5 linked regions of the Homo sapiens genome follow. The protein of the gene in region 5 purifies or fractionates together with the protein of the main gene of each other region. This does not show direct contact. Each region holds a gene or a part of one and is shown on either strand. Other genes may lie near its edges.

Region 1 (4,904 bases), on a different chromosome or scaffold from region 5:
GGAGGTTCTTAAAGATCTCATAGTGGGGAGGAAAGCACTGAACCATCAGGTTTTTGGCGACAATGAGGTCATCCAGGACGTACTTCCTTATAATTTCCAGGTGGCGGACAAGCCACATCTTGTCAGACTCTCTGGTATCTGCCTGTGTGCCCTCAATTCTGGTGGTCACAGTCCTCTCCAAGATGGTGAACATTTTCTCCTTCCAATTCTTGGGCCTCCCAGGAGGAACAAAGCCAGTTTGCTTTTTCCGGTCAAGTATGCGCCTGTCAATTTTCTCTTCCCTTTCAATGATCCTGACAACTGAGACCAGCAAGGTGGGGTCACGGCGGACAGTGACCAGTGACCTCTGCAGCACCATCCACAGCTGCTTAGCCAGCTCATCAGAGAGCCCCTGCGTGCTGCCAAAGTAGCCATGGATGAGGGTCATGTCACGCGTGTTCCCACTGTCCATGCGGTACTGCTCGTACATCAGCCCGTCCCGGGAGCACTCCAGGTCCATCAGCTTCCGGTGGGCTTGCAGGAGTGCCCCTTGTTCAATTAGGTCCTGGGTCTCCCTCACAATCTCAGGCACTAGGGAGAAGGCACAAGACACAACATAAACAACCACCACCACATAAAAGGCTGCCTGCATGCGGTGTTCTGGGAACACGGCAGAGCAGGAAGCCACATCTCCCTAGCTAACAACAACTGCAATGGCAGGATGTGTCTGAGGTAACTATCTTTGGAACTCTGGAGTCTATTAAAGGCATAAATGGTAAACTGTGGTTAACTGTGGTCATTTGCAGCTCTCAGCTGGGCAGTGGCTACCGAGGCCCCACCTCCCACCCCGCAGGCAGCTGTGCATGTGCTGATGTGTTCCTAAAGCTGCCTGCACACAGCCTGCAGCCTGGCTGGGCAAAAAGAACCCTGTCCTCCACACCGGAGATCTGTACTCAGATCACTGACTGCTGCTTCTGACCACAGAGGTGCGAAGAGGTAAGTGGCCACTGTTGCATCTTCCCCTGTTCACAGGTCCCTCCTCACCCCCACAGAGCTCCAGGGAATTTAAAGGGCCAATGTCTTCACCACCCCCTTCATCTGTTCCCCTTCTTGAAAGCCAGATATTTATGAATGAAGACATTCAAAAGTAACTGCATTTATAGGAAAAATTCGGAAGTGGCCAATGCATGCCCAGGCAAAGGCATAGGCTCAGAAAAGACTTGACACGACCTTGAAGTTCACACCTCAGGCTGTGCCTTGGCACAGAGAGCCTACAACAACCAAAAACAAGAATCATCAACCTGGGAAGGGGATCTGATTTCCAGAGTTATCACATTATTCGATTCAAGTGTCCATTTTTCAACAACAAAAACATCACAAGGCACCCAAAGAAAGAAGAAAGTATGGCCCATTCAAAGGAAAACATAAGAAACTGTTCCTGTAAAAGATCTGATGGCAGATCTACTAGAGAAAGACTTTAAAACAACGATTTAAAGATGCCTAAGGAACTTAAAGATGTGAAGAAAGACATGTATGAGCAAAATGGAAATACCAATAATGAGACAGAAAATCCAAAAGGAAACCAAACAGAAAATATGAAGCTGAAAAGTACAATAAATGAAATGAAAAATTCACTAAAGGGATTCAAAGGCAGATCTGCACAGGCGCAAGAAAGAATCAGTGAATGTGAAGACAGGACAATGGGAAATATCAAGTATCCGGAACAGAAAGAAAAAAGATTGAAGAAAAGTGAACAGAGCCTCAGGGACCTTGTGGACATCATCAAGCAGGCCAACATATGCTTAGTGGGACTTTTAGAAGGAGAAGAGAGAAATGGGCAAGACATTATTTGAAGAAATAATAGGTGAAAACTCCCCACATTTGATGAAAGACATGAATATGAAGATCCAAGAAGCTCAATGACCTCCAAGCAAGAGGAACTCAGAGGTCCACACTAAGATACAACTTAATCAAACTTTTGAAAGAATTCTGAAAGCAGCAACTTGTCAGAAACAAGGGCTCCAAAATAAGATTATGAGCAGATCAGATTTCTCACCAGAAACTTTGGAGGCCAGAGGCAGTGGGATGACATATTCAAAGTGCTAAAAGAAAAATACTGTCAACCAAGAACCTTAAATCTAGCAAAATGGTCATTCAAAAGTGAGAGCGATATTAAGACATCCCCAGATAAACAAAAGCTGAAAAGCTTGTTACCACAAGATCTGCCCTGCAAGAAATGCTTAAATAGAGTCCCACTGGTTGAGAAGAAAGAATGCTAGAGAGCAACTGGAAGCCACGTGAAGAAGCAAAGGCCTCAAAAAAGGTAAATTCATGGACAATCGTAAAATCTAGTATCATTAACACTTCAGTTTTTAACTCATCACTCTGTTTCGTACATGACTTAAGAGACTAATATTTGTTCTGGTTAAAAGGGACAAATAAAAAAGAAACTAATACATTAAAAAATAGTCTAAAAGCTACTAATACTGTAACTTTGGATTCTAACTCCACATTGTTTTCTACCTAATTTTTAAAAATGAATGCATTAAAAAACAATTATTAGTCTATGATTTTGGACACATGATATATAAAGATGTAATTTTGTGAAATGAACAACCCAAAGGGAGTGGAGATGAAGCCATATAGGGACGGTTTTTGTGTGTTATTGAAGTTAAGTTGATATAAATTCAAACTGAAGCGAGATAATGTTAGATGTTAAGTGTAATCTTTATGGTAGGCACAAAGAAAACAGCTATAGAATATACGCAAAAGAAACAAGGGAATTAAAATGTTTACTACCAAAATAATCAAAAGCACAAAAAAAATGCAGAAATAAGAGACAAAAATGTTATACCGCATATAGAAAACAAACAGCAAAATGACAGAAGTCCCTTCTTATCAGTAATCACTTAAATGTAAGCTCTTCCATCAAAAGAGGTAGGCAAAATTAATTAAAATCTTCAATCAAAAGAGGTAGACAAAATAGATTTAAAAAATAAAACATGATTCAACTCTATGTGTTCACCAGAGACTGACCTTAGAGCCCAAGACACAAATAGGTTGAAAGTAAAAGGGTGGAAAAAGATATTCCATATAAATAATAACCAAAAGAGAACAGGAGTGGTTATACTAATAAATATGAAATATACTTTAAATTAAAAAAAAAAAAACTAGTCACAAAGAAGGCCATATGTATTAATAGAAGGTTCAGCAAGAAGATGTAACAATTATAAATATTTCTGCATTTACTAACAGACCGTCAAAATACATGAAGCAAAAATGGATAGAACTGAAGGGAAAAACATTCAGTTCTGTAATAGTCGGAGGCTTCAATATCTCTCTCTCAATAATGGACAGAACAAGCAGACAGAAGCTAAACAAGGAAAGAGAGGACTTGAACAATGCAACCAACCAACCAGACTGAACAGACACAGAAAGAACACCCAACAACAGAACACACACTATTCTCACGTGCACATGGGACAGTCTTCAGGAAAGACCATGGATTAGGCCTCAAATTAAGACTCAGGTTTTTAAAAGATAAATATCATACAAAGTATCTTCTCCAAACTCAACAGATGACATTAGAAATCAGTATCAGAAGGAAAACTGTAAAATTCACCAATTTGTGGAAATTAAACAACATACTCTTAAACAATTAATGGGGCAAAAAAGGAAACATAAGGGACTTTTGTTTTGTTTTGTTTTGTTTTTCAGATGAAGTCTCGCTCTTGTCCCCCTGGCTGGAGTGCAGTGGTGCGATCTCGGCTCACTGTGACCTCTGCCTCCTGGGTTCAAGTGATTCTCCTGCCTCAGCCTCCTGAGTAGCTGGGATTACAGGCGCCTGCCACCACGCCCGGCTAATTTTTATATTTTTAGTAGAGACGGGGTTTCACCATGTTGGCCGGGCTGGTCTCAAACTCCTGACCTCAGGTGATCCGCCTGCCTCAGCCTTCCAAAGTGCTGGGATGACGGGCGTGAGCCACCGCACCCAGCCATAAGGGATATTTTTAAAAACCTAAGAGAAGAATGAAAATGCAGACGAATCAGAAACCTCACACACTCATGGTGGAAAATGCTGCAGCCACCGGAGGAAACAGTCTGGCAGCTGCTCAAAGATTTAAACATAAATTACCACATGGTCCAGCAATTACACTTGTGTGTATATACCAGAAAGAAATAAAAGTAAAACATCTGTACACCCATGTTCACTACAGCATTATTCACAATAGCTAAAACGTGGAAGCAATTCAAATGTCCACCAACAGACAAACGGATAAGCAAAATGTGGTCCATCCATACAATGGAATATTATTCAGCCTTAAAAGTGAAGGAAATTCTACAATACCACAGCATAGAAGACCCCTGAGGACATCATGCTGAGTGAAATAAGCATGTCACAGAAAGACAGATAATGTGTGATGCCACTTCTATGAGGTCTTCAGAGTCATCCAATTCACAGAGACAGAAGGCAGAATGGTGGTGACCAGGAGCTGGGGCAGAGGGTGCGAAGTCAGTGTTTAATGGGTACAGATTTTCATGTCTGCAAGATGAAAAGAGTTCTGAAGACGGATGTGGCAATGGTTGCACAACAATATGAATGTTCTTAATAGTCCCCAACTGTACACTTAAAAATGGTTAAGACGGCAAACTGTACATATGCATTTTAGAAGAAGAAAAAATGGGGGAGGGGAGCTGTGTACACAGCATTGCTGAGTTATAGGCAATGAGACAAGTCTGAAGGCAACCAAACCAATCTTCTCAATGAAAATTTATCCGTAACAAAAAACATGCATACCACGCAGGCTCATTTGTTCACCAAGGAAAGGAAATTATTTTCAACTGCTGTGGATAAACTAATTCCAGTAATGCACCTTTTTGGTCATCAGGCATTAGTTTAAAAGACCGGAAGGAAATGTAGCCAG
Region 2 (4,087 bases), on a different chromosome or scaffold from region 5:
GGTGACAAAGCAAGACTCTGTCTCAAAAAAAAATTACACTGAAAGACTTTATGGTAAGTATTTAAAACTAAATATACCAACCTGTGGTATATTACACATTTTAATATATTCTTCCATAATGCCCACTAAGAAGAAATAAATGGGATAAATGATGAAAAAAAATAAAGCAAATAAACACGCTTTTAGGAATGTTTTCGCATGTGTACATGTCAGGGCACATGAAAATGATTCCTCATTAGAACTCTCTACATCCTAAAAATTACAAAGACCGAGTTTCTACTTCAATTTTTTCTTCTGCTTGAAGTATATCTGGATCAACATGAACAACCGGAGGTCGCAGGATAACTTCAGGCCCTCCACCATAAATAGACTGCAGAAAATTCCATGTTTCTTCAGAAATCTGGCCAGAATCTGCTCCTTAAAATTACGTAGAAGAAATAATGTTTACAAACCTATATATTCATATTGCAAAAGCGTTCATAATGTACCCCCCAGCATGAATCTTCTCGGGATAATTGAGAACTTCTGGAACATGAATCTGCAGACTACCAGCCCATATTGTTATAAGCTGAAACATATGGCTTGTCTTAAAAAGTCAGAGATGCTTTTGCTTTGCTCTTAACAACAGCCTTAAGACCTTTCCTCAGATAAAAAAAAAGTGGCTGCTTTTCATTACTTGCCCTAGTTAATGTATGGATTACATTCTTCAGTTGAATAAAAAAGTACTATAGATGACTAATGATAACATATTTCTAACAGTGACAAATCACTCACAAGTAAAAGCTTAAATACGAGTCAAACTTACCTTGCCTAAGCATCACATTACCACATTTAGTGACTGCAATCTTAGTATTGTCAATAGGACCTGGAGGATCTAAAGGAAAAAATATCAAAATGTATTTTTCAAAGAAATGTAACAAAAAATTGCATAATTTTGTGCTTGACAAAATTGTGACCTATAACTACATTATCAGACTGGTTATTTCTCAGGCAAATTATTATAGTTAATTCTTTTTTTTTTTTTTTGAGATGGAGTCTCGCTCTGTTGCCCAGGCTGGAGTGCAGTGGCACCATCACAGCTCACTGCAACCTCCGCCTTGGGTTCAAGTGATTCTCCTGCCTCAGCCTCCTGAGTAGCTGGGAATACAGGCACACACCACCACGCCCGGCTAATTTTTGCTTTTTTTTTTTTTTTTAGTAGAGATGGGAGTTTCACCATGTTGGTCAGGCTGGTCTCGAACTCCTGACCTCACGATCTACCCACCTCAGCCTCCCAAAGTGCTGGGATTACAGGCGTGAGCCACTACACCTGGCCTATGGTTAATTCTTAATGTCTTCTCCTGAGCTTCTTCGTTTTTAGTTCTTAGTTCCCCCAAAACAGAACCAGGAAAGAAGGTAAGAGAGGCTCGTTCACAACCATCACAGTTTAACAGAAATGTTTTGTTTTTTTTTTTTTTTTTGAGACGGAGTCTCGCTCTGTTGCCAAGGGCTGGAGTGCAGTGGCATCATCTCGGCTCACTGCAAGCTCCGCCTCCCAGGTTCATGCCATTCTCCTGCCTCAGCCTCCCGAGTAGCTGGGACTACAGGCACCCACCACCACGCCCAGCTAATTTTTTGTATTTTTAGTAGAGATGGGGTTTCACCGTGTTAGCCAGGATGGTCTTGATCTCCTGACCTCGTGATCCACCCCCCTCGGCCTCCCAAAGTGCTGGGATGACAGGCATGAGCCACCACGCCCGGCCCAGAAATTATTTTTTAACTCTCCATTTGGGGATTACAAGTCAAAATGTACCACTAATGCTATAAAATAGCAATTCCTTTGTAATTTGAAAGAAATTATACAATTAATTTGCTTCAGATTATCAAAGTAACATTAAGAACAATAAAAGCATTATAAAAGAAACCGTTTAAATACATTCTTTTTAAAATTTAAGGCAAAAGTGAACCGCATGGTCATCATCAAAAGTTGTAAAAGCAACTTAAACAAATTTACAATTAAAAAAACCCAATTAGAAAGTGGACAAAGAACATGAACACTTCTCAAAAGAAGACATTTATGTGGCCAAAAAAACATGAAAAAAAGATCAACATCACTGATCATTAGAGAAACACAAATCAAAACCACAATGAGATACCATGTCACATCAGTCAGAATGCCAGTTATTAAAAAGTCAAGAAACAGGCTGGGCCCAGTGGCTTATGCCTGTAATCCCACCACTTTGGGAGGCCGAGGCAGGTGGCTCACTTGAGATCAGGAGTTTGAGACCAACCTGGCTAACATGGTGAAACCCCATCTCTACTAAAAATAGAAAAATTAGCCAGGCATGACAGCGGCACCTGTAATCCCAGCTACTCAGGACGCTGAGGCAGGACAATCGTCTGAACCCAGGAGGAGGTTGCAATGAGCTGAGATCACGCCACTCCACTCCAGCCTGAGTGACAAAGTGAGCCTCTTTTTCAAAAAAAAGAGAGAGTCAAGAAACAAGAGATGCTGGCGAGGCTGTGGAGAAATGGGAACACTTTTACACTGTTGGTGGGAATGTAAATTAGTTCAACCATTGTGGAAGACAGTGTGGCAATTCCTCAAAGACCTAGAACCAGAAATACCATTTGACCCAGCAATCCCATTACTGGGTATATATCCAAAAGAACACAATTCATTCTATTATAAAGATACATGCACACATATGTTCATGGCAGCACTATTCACAATAGCAAAGATAAGGAATCAACCCAAATGCCCATCTATGATAGACTGGATAAAGAAAATGTGGTAAATATACACTATGGAATACTACGCAGCCATAAAAAGGAAAGAGATCATGTCCTATGCAGGGACATGGATGGAGCTGGAAGCCATTATCCTCAGCAAACTAATGCAAGAACAGAAAACCAAACACTGCATGTTCTCACTTATAAGTGGGGGCTGAACAACAAGAACACAAGGACACAGGGAGGAGAACACACACTAGGGCCTGTTGGTGGGGGTTGAGGGATGAGGGGTGGGAGAACAACAGGAAAAACAGCTAATGCATGCTGGGCTTGATACCTAGGTAATGGGTTGATAGGTGGAGCAAATCGCCATGGCACATGTTTACCTATGTAACAAACCTGCACATCCTGCACATGTATGCTGGAACTTACAAAATAAAAATAAATTTTTTTAAAGGTGTAGAAAAGCCAGATATGGTGGTGTGCACCTATAGTCCCAGCTACTCAGGAGGCTGAAGCAAGAGGATCGCTGGAGCCCAGGAGTTTGAGGCCAGCCTGGACAATACAGAGAGAACTCAGTAATTCAGCACTTTGGGAGGCCAAGGTTGGTGCACTGCTTGAGCCCAGGAGTTCCTGGGCAACACTGTGAGACCATGTCTCTACAAATAATTGTAAAAAATAATTTTTAAATTAGCCAAGTGTGGTAGTACATGCCTGTAGTCCCAACTACTCAGGAGATGGAGGTAGGAGGATCGCATGGGCTGAGAGTTCAGGGCTGCAGTGAGCCATAATCATGCTGCTGTACTTAAACCTGGGCAACAGGGTTAAGACCTTGTCTCTATTAATTTAAAATTTTAAAAAGTAAATACATAAATACAAAAAGCTTTAACTAGGCATATTGTTGCAGCCTTTTTCACATATCAGAATCTTTTTTTTTTTTTTTTTTTTAAAGACAAAGTCTTGCTCTGTCACCCAGGCTGGAGTACAGTGGCATGATCTCAGTTCACTGCAGCCTCCGCCTCGTGGATTCAAGCAATTCTCCTGCCTCAGCCTCCTGAGTAGCTGGGATTACAGGTGACTGCCACCACACCCAGCTAATTTTTGTATTTTTAGTAGAGACAGGGTTTCACTATGTTTCAGGCTGGTCTTGAACTCCTGACGTCAGGTGATCCACCCACGTCAGCCTCCCAAACTTTTGGGATTATGGGCGTGAGCCACCGTGCCTGGCACATATCAGAATATCTTATTTTCATATTATTAAATATTGTCATACAATTTTACTTTAAAAGTCCACTGTATTGAATAAACCATACTTTAAGCAACCTCTTATTCCTTATAAAGATTTCTAAAATTTTTTCAACATTAAGATCACAGA
Region 3 (3,639 bases), on a different chromosome or scaffold from region 5:
CGCCTGTGGATTTTGTCCATTCATCTCATGCTCTCTGAACAGAAGGTATACCTGGGAAGATACCAGCTTTTTCTCTCAGGGTTCTGAGTCAGAGGACACCATCCAAGAATGTTGTTAGCTTTTCAGTTCCCGCTCTGCATTGCCTGAAAAAACTGGTATGTTGCACGTATGCTTTTGGTTGAAATTGAACATACTCTAGTGAATGTGCCTTAAAAATCAAGACACTAGTTCAGAGGAAGCACATAATGTCCAGATCTATGGCGAACACAGGTGTTGGAAGCCAGGACTGTGATAATCAGAAGCTATAAGAGAACTTTCGGAGCCTGCCTCCTTCAGTGACAAGTAGGGCACAAAATTCTAGAAGCAGAAGGTTGTTTTTTTTTTTTTTTCTCCATTCTGAAAATAGCAGGACATTTACCTCTTAAATAAACTTAGCATTTAGAGGTAATTCTAAATTTAACAAGTGACAGGGTTGGTTTCAAAGAAAAAGGTCCATGCTTTGCTTACAATGGAGTCTGCAGTGAGGGGAGATGCTGGGATAGCCATTTCCATGGCTCTGTTATGCAAGCACAAATTTCATCTCCTAGATGGACTTCCTGGTTTTCTCTTACTGCAGTAACACTGGCCTTCCCTTCTCTAATTCCTTACCCCAGCTGCGGCATCCCTGTGTTAACTCAGGATGCCAAGTGGCCCTCAGATTACACTTCTCCAGATAGCTGAATGAGTCTGCTTTCACTGTGACTGGGACCTGAATGACCTGCAGTCAGGGCCCAGAGTTGGGACTCTATACTACCCTGGGCTCTGGTCTGTAGGTTTGTAGTAGCCACCGGTAATAAGCCAAGGGCTAGGCTCTTGTTTGAGTTTATGGCCACCTGGAATTTTCAGTCATCTCATGATACAGGCGGGAGGGGCAGAACAGATAGATTACGACAGGTTTGGTTTTTAAATTTTCCAACCAAGTGGAAAGGCAAGTTGGTCTTATAGAAAGCACTACTGCACTTAGTAGCTATGTGATTTTGAGCAAACCACATAATCTCTCTAGGTCCATTTTCCTAACCACAAGATAAAGATGTTACATTGTCAAAGCTTGCCGTAGGATTTGGGGTGAATGAAAATTATTCCTTGCTTTCATCACTACCTTTATAGCTCTCATCACTACCTTTATAGCTCATCACTGTGCCTTTTTTTCTTTCCTAAGAAAGACATCACATCCCTCTCCTCTCCTCCTCTGTGCTCCTGTCCCTCCCTCCCCCTAGCAAGGTCCAGGCAAAGCTGGAGATGAGGCTGAGATCCAGAGTTTCCTAGAACGCAACTTAGGATGGCTAGGAAAGGGAAGCCTGACTGCTCGGTCAGGAGGGTGCAGTATCTCTTGCTGGGAACACAGCCAGTTTTCACAATGCCTAGACTGTGTATGTCTATTTGCACAAGATTGTCTTTTCCTATTTTGGAGTGGTCAGACATTTTATTTTTGTTCAAGATTATCTGGCGTTTTAGACAAATTTGCAAAACTGTGCTTTTATTGACTTTTTGAATAAACTTTGGTATTCTGGAGCAAATGTATTTATTTATTGGTATGTGCAATGACAAACTTGGTATTTTCCCATGTTGACATTATGTATGTTGTAGAATTTAGTGTTTGTCTAAGTACACACATATATCAACAAATTAAACTTGAATCGTTTCAACACTTCTGTGTACTTTTTTCATAAAGGGGAAAAAAGCCCTGTTTACTTCCTAATTTTTTTCTATACCTTTCATTCATTGTTTCCTAGGAGCCTCAGGTGGGTAAGTAGGTGATAATAGCAAAGAGATCATAACCTCACCAATGACATGTGGGTCAACACTGTCCTTCCTCTGGCCTGTGCCTTTCAAGTTTAAGGTTCATCAGAACCACACCCAGAGGCTGGAAAAATGGTGAAGTCAGAAGGTACTTAAGTTAGAGCAGTTCTCTTCAGGGTCTGCTGTGCCGCCTGAAGGGGCTGGTGGTTCCTCAGTATCCCCTGTGGGCCTGGCCTTAGGAAGAGAACAGGGCTGTAGAGATGAAAAAGGTATAAAAGACCCAACCACTTGATGTCTCAGGGCTTGCTTGGACCCTAACCCATTTAAACAGGACCTCGAGATGCTTAGGAATCTTTTTTTGTTGCCGGGCAGCTGTGGCAGATTTGAAGGCAAAAGGAAGGGAGGCTACAGTTGTAGCTAGAAGCAGACATGAAAGCTAATGGTCTGACCCAGACAAGAGGTTATAACTAAAGGCACCCGGAGACTGCAGAAGGGCCCTGGGCCACTCCTGGCAATCAGGGTAGCCTTAGAGGGTGTCAGGTGTGACATCTCAGCAACACTGGACTTGACAGAGTGGTGACAGGGATCATGCTGTCACCAAGCACCTACCACATGCTTTGCCCTGGCACAGACACTTTATAAACAGCATCTTATTTAATCCAAACAGCCCTGTAAATAGAGCATTATTCCCAATTCATGGGGAAACTGGTTCTCTGAGAGGTTAAGGAATGACCTAAGAGGAGAAATTTGGGCTATTTTCTTTGTATAAAAAAAGGGAAATAAAGGAAAAGGAAGCACATTTTAGAAAAGTCAATGGTCAAGGCAAAGTCATAAATGTGTTCATGTTTTTTCTCAATATTGCTGAATAGCTAAAGCACTAAATTTTTCTTTGGAATACAAATAGTCCAGATTGAAGAGAACTTTGAGAGTGTGGTAATAATTCGGGTTTGTTTATTCCCCCAGATCTAGAGTTCTGATGTGACCAAGAGCATTTCCTACCTGAACCATGGCCTATCTCCTGTGGCCTCTGCCTCTGGTGGGAAATAGCGCATACAGGATATTCTAAAAAGGAAAGAGGGTTTTGTTTGTTTAGTCATCAGGTTCAAAAATCTTAAATGGCTATAGACAGGGGTGACCCTACGTCCAGGACAGTCTTAGTTTATGCCTATCACCTTGGCATAATTATATTAAAGCTCCCTTTTTCCAAAGTGTTTGAATTTGGACCTTAAGTTATTTGATCACCCAAGCCATATAAGGTGCATTGTATGGTTCTCAAAGGCCGTTGATTCTACAGGCCAAATACACCTCCACTCCTCATCACGACTCCCTGGGCCCAGCTTCTGGAGCTAGTCATGGAGATAATGGTTTCTTTGTGCTCCTGTTGTGACCAGGAAAGGGGATCTCCTGGCTGCACCACCCACCTGATTTACCAAGAGTGATCCCAGATTATGCAGTTGTTTTGTGAGCTAACTGTCCATAAAGGTATGACTTGTGTACTCTGCCACAGTGCCAAAAGGCCAGGGGACTGATCAAGTTCCCAGCACCCTCGTGAGAAATGAAGACCGCAAGAAAAGAGACAGCAGCCCTGGCAACAAAAACCGGACCCATGATTTTGTCATCCTGGGTTGTATATACACATATAACTGTCATCCCCGAAGGATAAAATAATTCTGGAAAATCCAAAAAGAATTTTCTAAATCCTAAATAACTGAAAGGTACATCCAAATGTCTGATATATAAATACACAAATATATTCCTTATATATAAACCAACCAAGAGCTAGGGCAGGAAGAACCACCATAAGGGCTTAGTACTTCTGGCAGGAATTTCCATAAGCCAATTTTCCCCAAAGACCAACAA
Region 4 (3,730 bases), on a different chromosome or scaffold from region 5:
CTTCAATTCAATTTCCATCTGCTAATAAATATAGTCAAGTGCTGCATAATGTTTTGGTCAACATCCCCTAAGATTATAAAACCATATTTGACTGCACCTTTTCTACATTTAGATACACAAATACCACTGTGTTACAACTGCCTACAGTATTCAGTACAGTGACATGCTGTGCAGGTTTGTAGCCTAGAAGCAATAGGTTTGTGTAAGTACACTTGTTATGAAATCCACAATGTTTGTACAATAAAACCGCCTAATGACGCATTTCTCAGAACATATCCCTGTTGTTAATCAATGCATGACTGCATAAGAATATCTGACTTAAAAAACACATGAACTAATGGCCAAGTGGTGAAAGGCTGCATATGCTAAAAAATACTACCAAAAAGTTCCATACCCATAACATATGTGATATGTAAGTTTTAAGTTGTCAAAGAAATTTCAACCCAGTATTACTTTCTACCAGAAATGTCTTTAACAACTCATGATATGAATCCATATACTTTTCATGCTAAAATATTCACAAAAATTGAATAATTCACTTAGCCAAATTCACTGTTTTTTTTTTTTTTTTGCATTGGGTCTACTATTGATCACTAAACTCACACTGACTTCATTTAAAATTGCTCATTGCATCTCTTTTTATTTTTAAGACAGAGTTTCACTCTTGTCGCCATGGCTGGAGTGCAATGACGCAATCTCAGCTCACTGAAACCTTTACCTTCTGGGTTCAAGTGATTCTCCTGCCTCAGCTTCCCGAGTAGCTGGGATTACAGGCACCTGCCACTACGCCCAGCTAATTTTTGTCACCACGCCCAGCTACTTTTTGTATTTTTAGTAGAGATGGAGGTTTCACCATGTTGGCCAGGCTGGTCTTGAACTCCTGACCTCAGGTTATCCACTCGCCTCGGCCTCCCAAAGTGCTGGGATTACAGGCGTGAGCCACCGTGCCTGACTGTAATTGCTCATTGCATCTCTAAAATATTCTATCTTAGTATTTGTAGCACTAATTGTACTTTATTTAGGTTATCCTATTTTTCATTTTGAGGCCCTTTATTTTAGCAACAAGACATACTGGCAGGTTAAAACTGCTTTATTATTATTTTTTTAACATAGAAGAAGCTTGGTAGTGGACATGTGGCCATTTGATGTTTTTATGACTAAGAGAGTTCAGGCTCAATCTCTTACAGAATGTAAATGTACCCCTATGCATGCATATGTAATTCTTATCAAAATTAAGCTTAATCACTAAAAGAAGATTCGCTATCTGAACTTTCTTCTACAGTTTTCTCACTTTCGCCATCAGGCACTGGAGCATCTGGCCTCCTAAAAGAAAAGAAAAAAAAATTTCAAAGGTCTTTTCCAATTGAAAAGAGCACTTACAAACTCTTAAATTTGGTTCATCTTAGAATATTGCTGCTAATAAATCTGCCAAGTCCGTGTCCTCAGTCTCCTGCTCTACACCACAGCGTGCTTCTCTCGGGCTTCTTGGGCACCATGGGGATTCAATGCTATGCCTGTAGAGGCCGCGACAGTATTTTCTCTTGCCAGTCCTTACATAGTGCGCTACTTCAGCACTTTCTGCTTCTCATTACCATGGAGACCCAATTATAGACAGAGATGTGATCTGTAGAGGCTGGCATGACCAGTGCTAAGTCCCTGAAGCTTCCAAGTGTACATGAGGTACAGAGAAAGGAAAGCTAGAAATGAAAAGAAAAGGAAATGCTTCATGTTCAGGAAAGCTGCAGGGAGAAACTTAGAAATGGAAGAGAGTTCAAAAATGGCTAATAAAAAAATAGGTAATGTGGAAATTTTGTAGCGAAGGAGAGTGCCTGGTCGAAGAAGGTTCTTAATGTTTGTTAAACGTTTTCACTTACATGTTTTATCTTTACAGAATGAAAATAGAAAGTATGAGTTGGCAAAAATACTGTTTCAAAGATCCCCTAGGCATTATAAGGAGACATGAGAATGGTTAGATTCCAACTTTGCATGGATGTGCTCTAATAAACCAAAATGAAATTTTAATGATGTTATTAAAACAGTCAACTAGTTAAGCCTCAATAGTTTTGTGCCAGTAAGTCATTTAATCAGTGTAGTGGCATTATCACTTAGCCTCTATTCACTCTTACCAAGAAAGTAAATTAAGCAAGAAAAGTATTTTTGGGGGGGAAACCAAGAGGAAAAGGAGTAACAATATAACTGCTACATCTTTTTTTTTTTTTTTTTTTTTTTTTGAGATGGAGTCTCGCTCTTGTCACCAGGCTGAAGTGCAATGGTGTGATCTCGGCTCACTGCAACCTCTGTCTCCCAGGTTCAAGCCATCCTCTTGCCTCAGCCTCCCGAGTAGAGGTGTGTGCCACCACGCCCAGCTAATTTTTGTATTTTCAGTAGAGACGGGATTTCACCATGTTGGCCAGGATGGTCTTGATCTCCTGACCCTGTGATCCACCCGCTCTGGCCTCCCAAAGTGCTGGGATTATAGATGCGAGCCCGTGCCTGGCCTATAACTGCTGTATCTTAATAATTACAAACTACCAGACTGATTTCTCCCTCAGGCTTGACTCTTATTAAACATTTAGGACACTTAAAAATAAAACTCATATTCACCACAAACAGAAATTACTATTACTAAAATAAGAAAATGCACAGTCTAACAGTTACTTTAGGTATTAAAATTATGGCTTATATTTTTAAATATATTTGGCATACTACAAAAGAGAAAATAATGCTGGCATTGCTCCCTAGTTGTCAAATATAAACCCATTTGCTCTGCTGAACAATTTTAGATTATATCTACAAGGAAGCATTATGTAGTCAATACAGTGAAACTTTAAAGCTGGGTACAGCAGTTCCAGGATTTGACTGATGCTCCATCTGCCTAAAATACTAACATGGGACCATCATCTTCCTCCCTTTTCATTAGAAGCAACAACTCTAGAATTAGTGGGTATGAATACTAGGCACATTTTACCCAGTAAATTTCTCTTTGCTATATATTTGATTTCTTACTGTCTATACTTTGTTAAGTAGGAAAACATTACCAGTGGGAATTATTTTAATACCACATCAAAATTGTATTAGTACCTATGACAACTCAAACAAATACAACAATGTACATAACTTCCTAAAATAAATGCTACTTTAGAAAAGGGTAGGCCAGGGATGTCGATTCATGCCTGTAATCCCAGCACTTTGGGAGGCCGAAGAGGGCGTTTTGCTTGAGCCCAGCAGTTCAAGACCAGCCTGGGCAACAGGGCAAAACACCATCCTTTGCAAAAAAATAGAGAAATTAGCCAGTAGTGGCCTACTGTGCCAGCTACTTTGGAGGCTGAGGTGTATCACTTGAGCCTGGGGGCAGAGGCTGCAGTAAGCTGTGACCATGCCTGGGCACTCCAATCTGGGCAACAGAGTGAAACCCTGTCTCAAAAAAAAAAGGAAAAGGGTAAAAGCAGCTTAGGACCAGAAGAAACTGAAACTATAAAATTCATTAATTTATGTGTGTAACCATTTATTGATACATGTGATGCTATATTACATAGTAACTAAGAATATAGGCTCTGGGTACAGACTGTGCTAAAATCCCATCCTTGTTTCTTACTTGTTGGCCAACTTTGGGGAAGCTATTTAACTACTTTGTGTCTGACTGATTGATTGGATTTTGTGATGATTAAATTAATTAATAAATGTAAAGTGTGTTCGATAATATCTGGCACATAGTATCAGATAAATATTA
Region 5 (4,904 bases):
GCACATTAATGTAAGTACATATGTATCTGTTTTTTAAAAGTAATACAAAAGTAAATTAAACTTAGAACTGTACTTTTAAATGCTAACCGAAGAATACATCTTAAACCAAAGCAACCACTAAACTCGTTTATATTGTTACTCAAAACTACCACTATTTATGCAGATAACTCAAAAGTATTCATAGAAAGAAATGGGTAATACTTAAAAACACGTACATAGAGTTGACCACATACTCATTTTACCATTAAATGTCACATTTACCAAATTTTTCTCCAGTGTTAACCACACATAAGAAATGAACATATAGATTGCTTTTTCTTCCTGATCACATTTTAATAAAGCACTAACAGTTTTGCCAATAAATTAGAAGTGATTATAATAAACATTTTTAAAGTTATCATAATGCAAAATACTAAACAGCAACAATTTCCCAAACAACAAAGGGAAATACATTTACCCTTTAAGCAAGAAAGTAATTTCTAACAGTACTATATCCAGCTAAAATCGAACAGAAGAAAAATTACTAATTACAGTACCAAATACAGGAAATTTCCATTTCTCAAATCAAGTAACAACTAAAATAAGTAAATATCCTCTAGGTTCCTTGACAGTATTACGATCAGAGAAATTAGGCCAGACCTAAACTAAGGGATTAAAGTCTCACAGTAAAAAGGTACAAGAGTTAACAGTCACAGTGCTGCTAGTTACATAATTTATGTACCACCATTTTCCTTTCTTACCAGCATTTCCATCTTCCTTTGGATGCCTTTAAAAGCCTGCCTCCCAGCTGGGAGCAGTAACACACACCTGTAGTCCCAACACTATGGGAGGCCGAGGCAGGCAGACTGCTGTGCTCAGAAGTTCAAGACTAGCCTGGGCAACATAGTGACACCTGTCTCTACCAAAAAATGCAAACCTTAGCCAGGTCCACGTGGTGGTGCGCATCTGTATCCCCAGCTACTTGGGGCGCTGAGGTGGGAAGATCGCTTGAGCCCAGAAGGCAGAGGTTACAGTGAGCAAAGATGGAGCCAGCTGCTGCACTCCAGCCGGAGCAAGAGAGACAGATACTGCCTAAAAAAAAAAAAAAGCCTGCCTCCCTCTTAATTTCCTGCTTTAATCCACTCCCAGCCAGGAAATCAGAATCACCAAGCTTCTTATCCCTAGGATAGAGCCTTACAGCATCACATATTGTGTCAATTAAAGATCTTTTATACAAGCTATTCTCCTGCCTTACAATTACAGTTTAGTTTTTTATTCATTGCTATTTTCCATCTGATTAAGGTATCAGATATCTAACCAAAAACAAATTAAGATATAGGCATGGTCCTCTTTTACTCCAACAGAAGACAATTTTTAGAAAAAGTGTTTTAAGCCAAACAATTTCTTGCCCTTGGTATAAAGCAGCAGCATGCAGAAAACACTAATTGCAGTTTCAATCTCAATGGAATCTAGGCTGGTCCTTAGCATCAGTCTGAGTGATAAATCCCTTATTCCAGAATACACTTAGGAAGAACTACTAAGAACATATTTTTACCTATTTCAAAGAAGAAAATGAGAAAAGGCATTGATTTTAAAAAAAAGAATACATGTTACGGTTTGTACTTACTTTTTAGCAAGATCATATTCTTTAGCTTCATAATACAGCTTTGCAAAATAGAATCCTTTCATTGACTTCTAAAAAAAAATTAAAAGTTGTTTTATGTTTCATACAGAAATATTTTCCAACATTTTTTCAAAAGTAGTTAAAGCCTGACAAATGCATAATTCCATGTTTTATAATTTCCTACCACAAAACAAAAAATAGAGCTGGGTGCAGCGGCTCATGCCTGTAATCCCAGCACTTTGGGAGGCCGAAGTGGGCGGATCACCTGAGGTCAGGAGTTTGAGACCAGCCTGGCTAACATGGTGAAACCCCGTCTCTACAAAAATAGAAAAATTAGCCAGGCATGATGGCGGGTGCCTGTAATCCCAGCTACTCAGGAGGCTAAGGCACAAAAATCAGTTGAACCCAGGAGGTGGAGGTTGCAGTGAGCCAGAGGTTGCAGTCAGCTGAGATCGTGCCATTGCACTCCAGCCTGGGCGACAGAGACTCCATCTCCCAAACATCATCATCATCATCATCATCATCATCATCATAAATAAGCTGGGTGCAGTTGGTCACACCTTTAATTCTATTTAATTCTAGCACTTTCAGAGACCAAGGTGGGAGGCTAGCTTTGAGGCCAAGAGTTTGAAACCAGCCTGTGCAACACAACAAGATCCTGTCTCCAGGGGGAAAAAAATAGCCAGGCATAGTGGAGCATGCCTGTGTTCCTAGCTACTCAGGAGGCCAAGGAAGGAGAATCACTTGAGCCCAGGAGGTTGACACTGCCGTGAGTTATGACTGTGACACTGCACTCCAGCCTGGGTGACACAGGGAGATCCTCTCTCTAAATAATAAATACATAACATACAAAAAATAAATTCAAGAAAGCAAGACAAGCAGACAACAGAAGTTAAGAATTTTCATCAGCCTTGGAAATCTCGGAAACCCTGTGGTACCACTCTCTCACTTAACAAACAAAAGAAACCAGCTTTCTTTGGGGAGGAAAGGTATTCCAGAAATCTCTTCTCCTACCATGTGTAAGCCTCTATGGGAAAGAATAAATAAGTACTTAGGATCTATTAAGGCACTGAGGATTCCCGGGTCCATGTACTGTTCTCTCTACAGATCAGATCAGTATTTTACAGTCAAGGAGTCAAAAAGGCAGAAATAAATATTGAATTCTTCAAGTAATAAACGAGGTCCACAGCCTGGATCCTTGGTTACATAAACTCCAAAGTCCAAAATGCTGATGCACACCAGGCTGGGTGCGGTGGCTCACACCTGTAATCCCAGCACTTTCGGAGACTGAGGCGGGTGGATCACTTGAAGCCAAGAGTTCGAGACCAGCCTGGCCAACATACAGAAACCTCCTTTCTACTAAAAATACAAAAATTAGCTGGGCATGGTGGCACACGCCTGTAATCCCCGCTGCTTGGGAGGCTGAGGCAAAGAATCACTTGAACCCGGGAGGCAGAGGCTGCAGTGGGCCAAGATCGCACCACTGAACTCCAACCTGGGCAACAGAATGATTCCATCTCAAAAAAAAAAAAAAAAAAATGCTGATACAACCAGAGTATGTTCCATCCATGTGATAGAGTATACAGCTACTCAAACATCTTATTTTTGAAATTCCAAGACCCCAGTGAATGTCCAAAACGATGAATAGTACCAAACCAGGTTGCCATCAATCGAAACATGTTTCCTGTTTGTGTCCTCCACCCACAAATTTAATGTCTTGTCCATCTCAACTAAGCACTTATCACACACTGTGGCTGTAACTTTTGCAGTTTGGGGTGTCACAACAAAACTAGCACAAATTTCTTTTTCCTTCTTCACAATTTCATGGACAAAAGATTTGTTCTTACCATAGATCTCAGCAACCCCAGTATATGATCTTTTTTCTTTCCTAAGTCAAAAACTCACCTCTTCACTTAAAGGAAGCACTATATGGCTTCTCTCTGGCATATGTGAACTGCCAGCATCGCTATTCTTGCTCTTTGGTGCCATTTTAAATAAAATAAAGGTCACTTGAACACAAGCACTGCAATACTCCAACAACTGATCTGATAACTGAGGTGGCTAGTATGTAACTAGCGGGTGGGGAGCACATACAGCATGAATATGTTGGACAAAGGGATGATTCGTGTCCTGGGTAGGACGGAGCAGGAGGCCGTGAGATTTTTATCATGTTATTCAGACCTGTTTGCAATTTAAAACTCATGAAATGTTTATTTATATAATCTTCCATTCAATATTTTTGGACCACGGGTGACGCAGGTAAGTAAAACCACGTAAGGCAATACTGTGGATAAGAAGGGACTACTGTACCAGCAACGAACAATCAGAAAATGAAATTAAGAAAGCAATTCCATTTACAATCGCATCTAAAAGAAAAAAATGCCTGGGAATAAATGTAAACAAGGAGGTGAGAGACTTGTATGCTTAAATTACAAAACCTTGCTCAATGCCAGGCTAACACCTGCAATCCCAGCACTGGCGACAGAGCAAGACTCCGTCTCAAAAAAAAAAAGAACTATAGCAATCTTAACAAAAATAATACACAACAGTCAGGACAGCACATAAAGGAACAAGTCCTGTTCCCCCCTTCCTTTTTTTTTTTTTTTTTGAGATGGAGTCTTGCTCTGTCGCCAGGCTGGAGTGCGGTGGCTCGATCTCAGCTCACTGCAACCTCTGCGTCCCGGGTACAAGCTGGGACTACAGGCGCACGCCACCATGCCCAGCTAATTTTTGTATTTTCAGTAGAGATGGGGTTTCACCATGTTGGCCAAGATGGTGTCGATCTCTCGACCTTGTGATCTGACTTCTTCCGCCTCCCAAAGTGCTGGGATTACAGGCATCAGCCACCGAGCCCGGCCAGTTCCCCCTTTTCAAAATGAAGAAATAGATTCAAGGTACAATGCCAAAACATAATAGAAAAATAATTCCATTACCTTCTTTGCTTCCAACTATGTTAAAACATAATAGAAAAATAATTCCATTACCTTCTTTGCTTCCAACTATGTTATTAAAGTAGACAATCTTAAGATAATTAAACAACTTTACAAATTATTCTTCTATATGATCTTTTGCCTCTAACCTGCTCACTTTACAAGGGAACTGAAGCTCAAGCAGACAAATGCCTTGTTTAAAGATATACAGCTAGAAAGGAGCACAGCCCATGTTATGTAAACAGGACAATATCTGATGCAAGCAGTACTTCTTTACATGACAGCAGATGTCACTATAAGCAAATACCTGAATTCACTTAAGCTGCCAAATATCAAGAACTGATGCAGGGCTGAAAACAGGAACAGTAAGA

Evidence for each region.
Region 1: the proteins of RGPD8 (region 5) and EXOC3 purify together in Homo sapiens (co-immunoprecipitation; one large-scale study listed by IntAct). This does not show direct contact.
Region 2: the proteins of RGPD8 (region 5) and USP33 purify together in Homo sapiens (co-immunoprecipitation; one large-scale study listed by IntAct). This does not show direct contact.
Region 3: the proteins of RGPD8 (region 5) and RIC3 purify together in Homo sapiens (co-immunoprecipitation; one large-scale study listed by IntAct). This does not show direct contact.
Region 4: the proteins of RGPD8 (region 5) and WASHC3 purify together in Homo sapiens (co-immunoprecipitation; one large-scale study listed by IntAct). This does not show direct contact.

What each region holds. Positions count from the first base shown.
Region 1 is NC_000005.10:449,036-453,939, reverse strand, and holds part of EXOC3 (exocyst complex component 3), read right to left. Parts: intron 571-4,904; coding exon 1-570. UniProt on the Homo sapiens protein: Component of the exocyst complex involved in the docking of exocytic vesicles with fusion sites on the plasma membrane.
Region 2 is NC_000001.11:77,697,058-77,701,144, forward strand, and holds part of USP33 (ubiquitin carboxyl-terminal hydrolase 33), read right to left. Parts: intron 875-4,087; coding exon 806-874; intron 418-805; coding exon 260-417; 3' UTR 1-259. UniProt on the Homo sapiens protein: Deubiquitinating enzyme involved in various processes such as centrosome duplication, cellular migration and beta-2 adrenergic receptor/ADRB2 recycling.
Region 3 is NC_000011.10:8,104,557-8,108,195, forward strand, and holds the end of RIC3 (protein RIC-3 isoform a precursor), read right to left. Parts: 3' UTR 1,500-3,639; downstream 1-1,499. UniProt on the Homo sapiens protein: Molecular chaperone which facilitates proper subunit assembly and surface trafficking of alpha-7 (CHRNA7) and alpha-8 (CHRNA8) nicotinic acetylcholine receptors.
Region 4 is NC_000012.12:102,011,870-102,015,599, forward strand, and holds the end of WASHC3 (WASH complex subunit 3), read right to left. Parts: intron 1,324-3,730; coding exon 1,239-1,323; 3' UTR 971-1,238; downstream 1-970. UniProt on the Homo sapiens protein: Acts as a component of the WASH core complex that functions as a nucleation-promoting factor (NPF) at the surface of endosomes, where it recruits and activates the Arp2/3 complex to induce actin polymerization, playing a key role in the fission of tubules that serve as transport intermediates during endosome sorting.
Region 5 is NC_000002.12:112,422,634-112,427,537, forward strand, and holds part of RGPD8 (RANBP2-like and GRIP domain-containing protein 8), read right to left. Parts: intron 1,675-4,904; coding exon 1,607-1,674; intron 27-1,606; coding exon 1-26.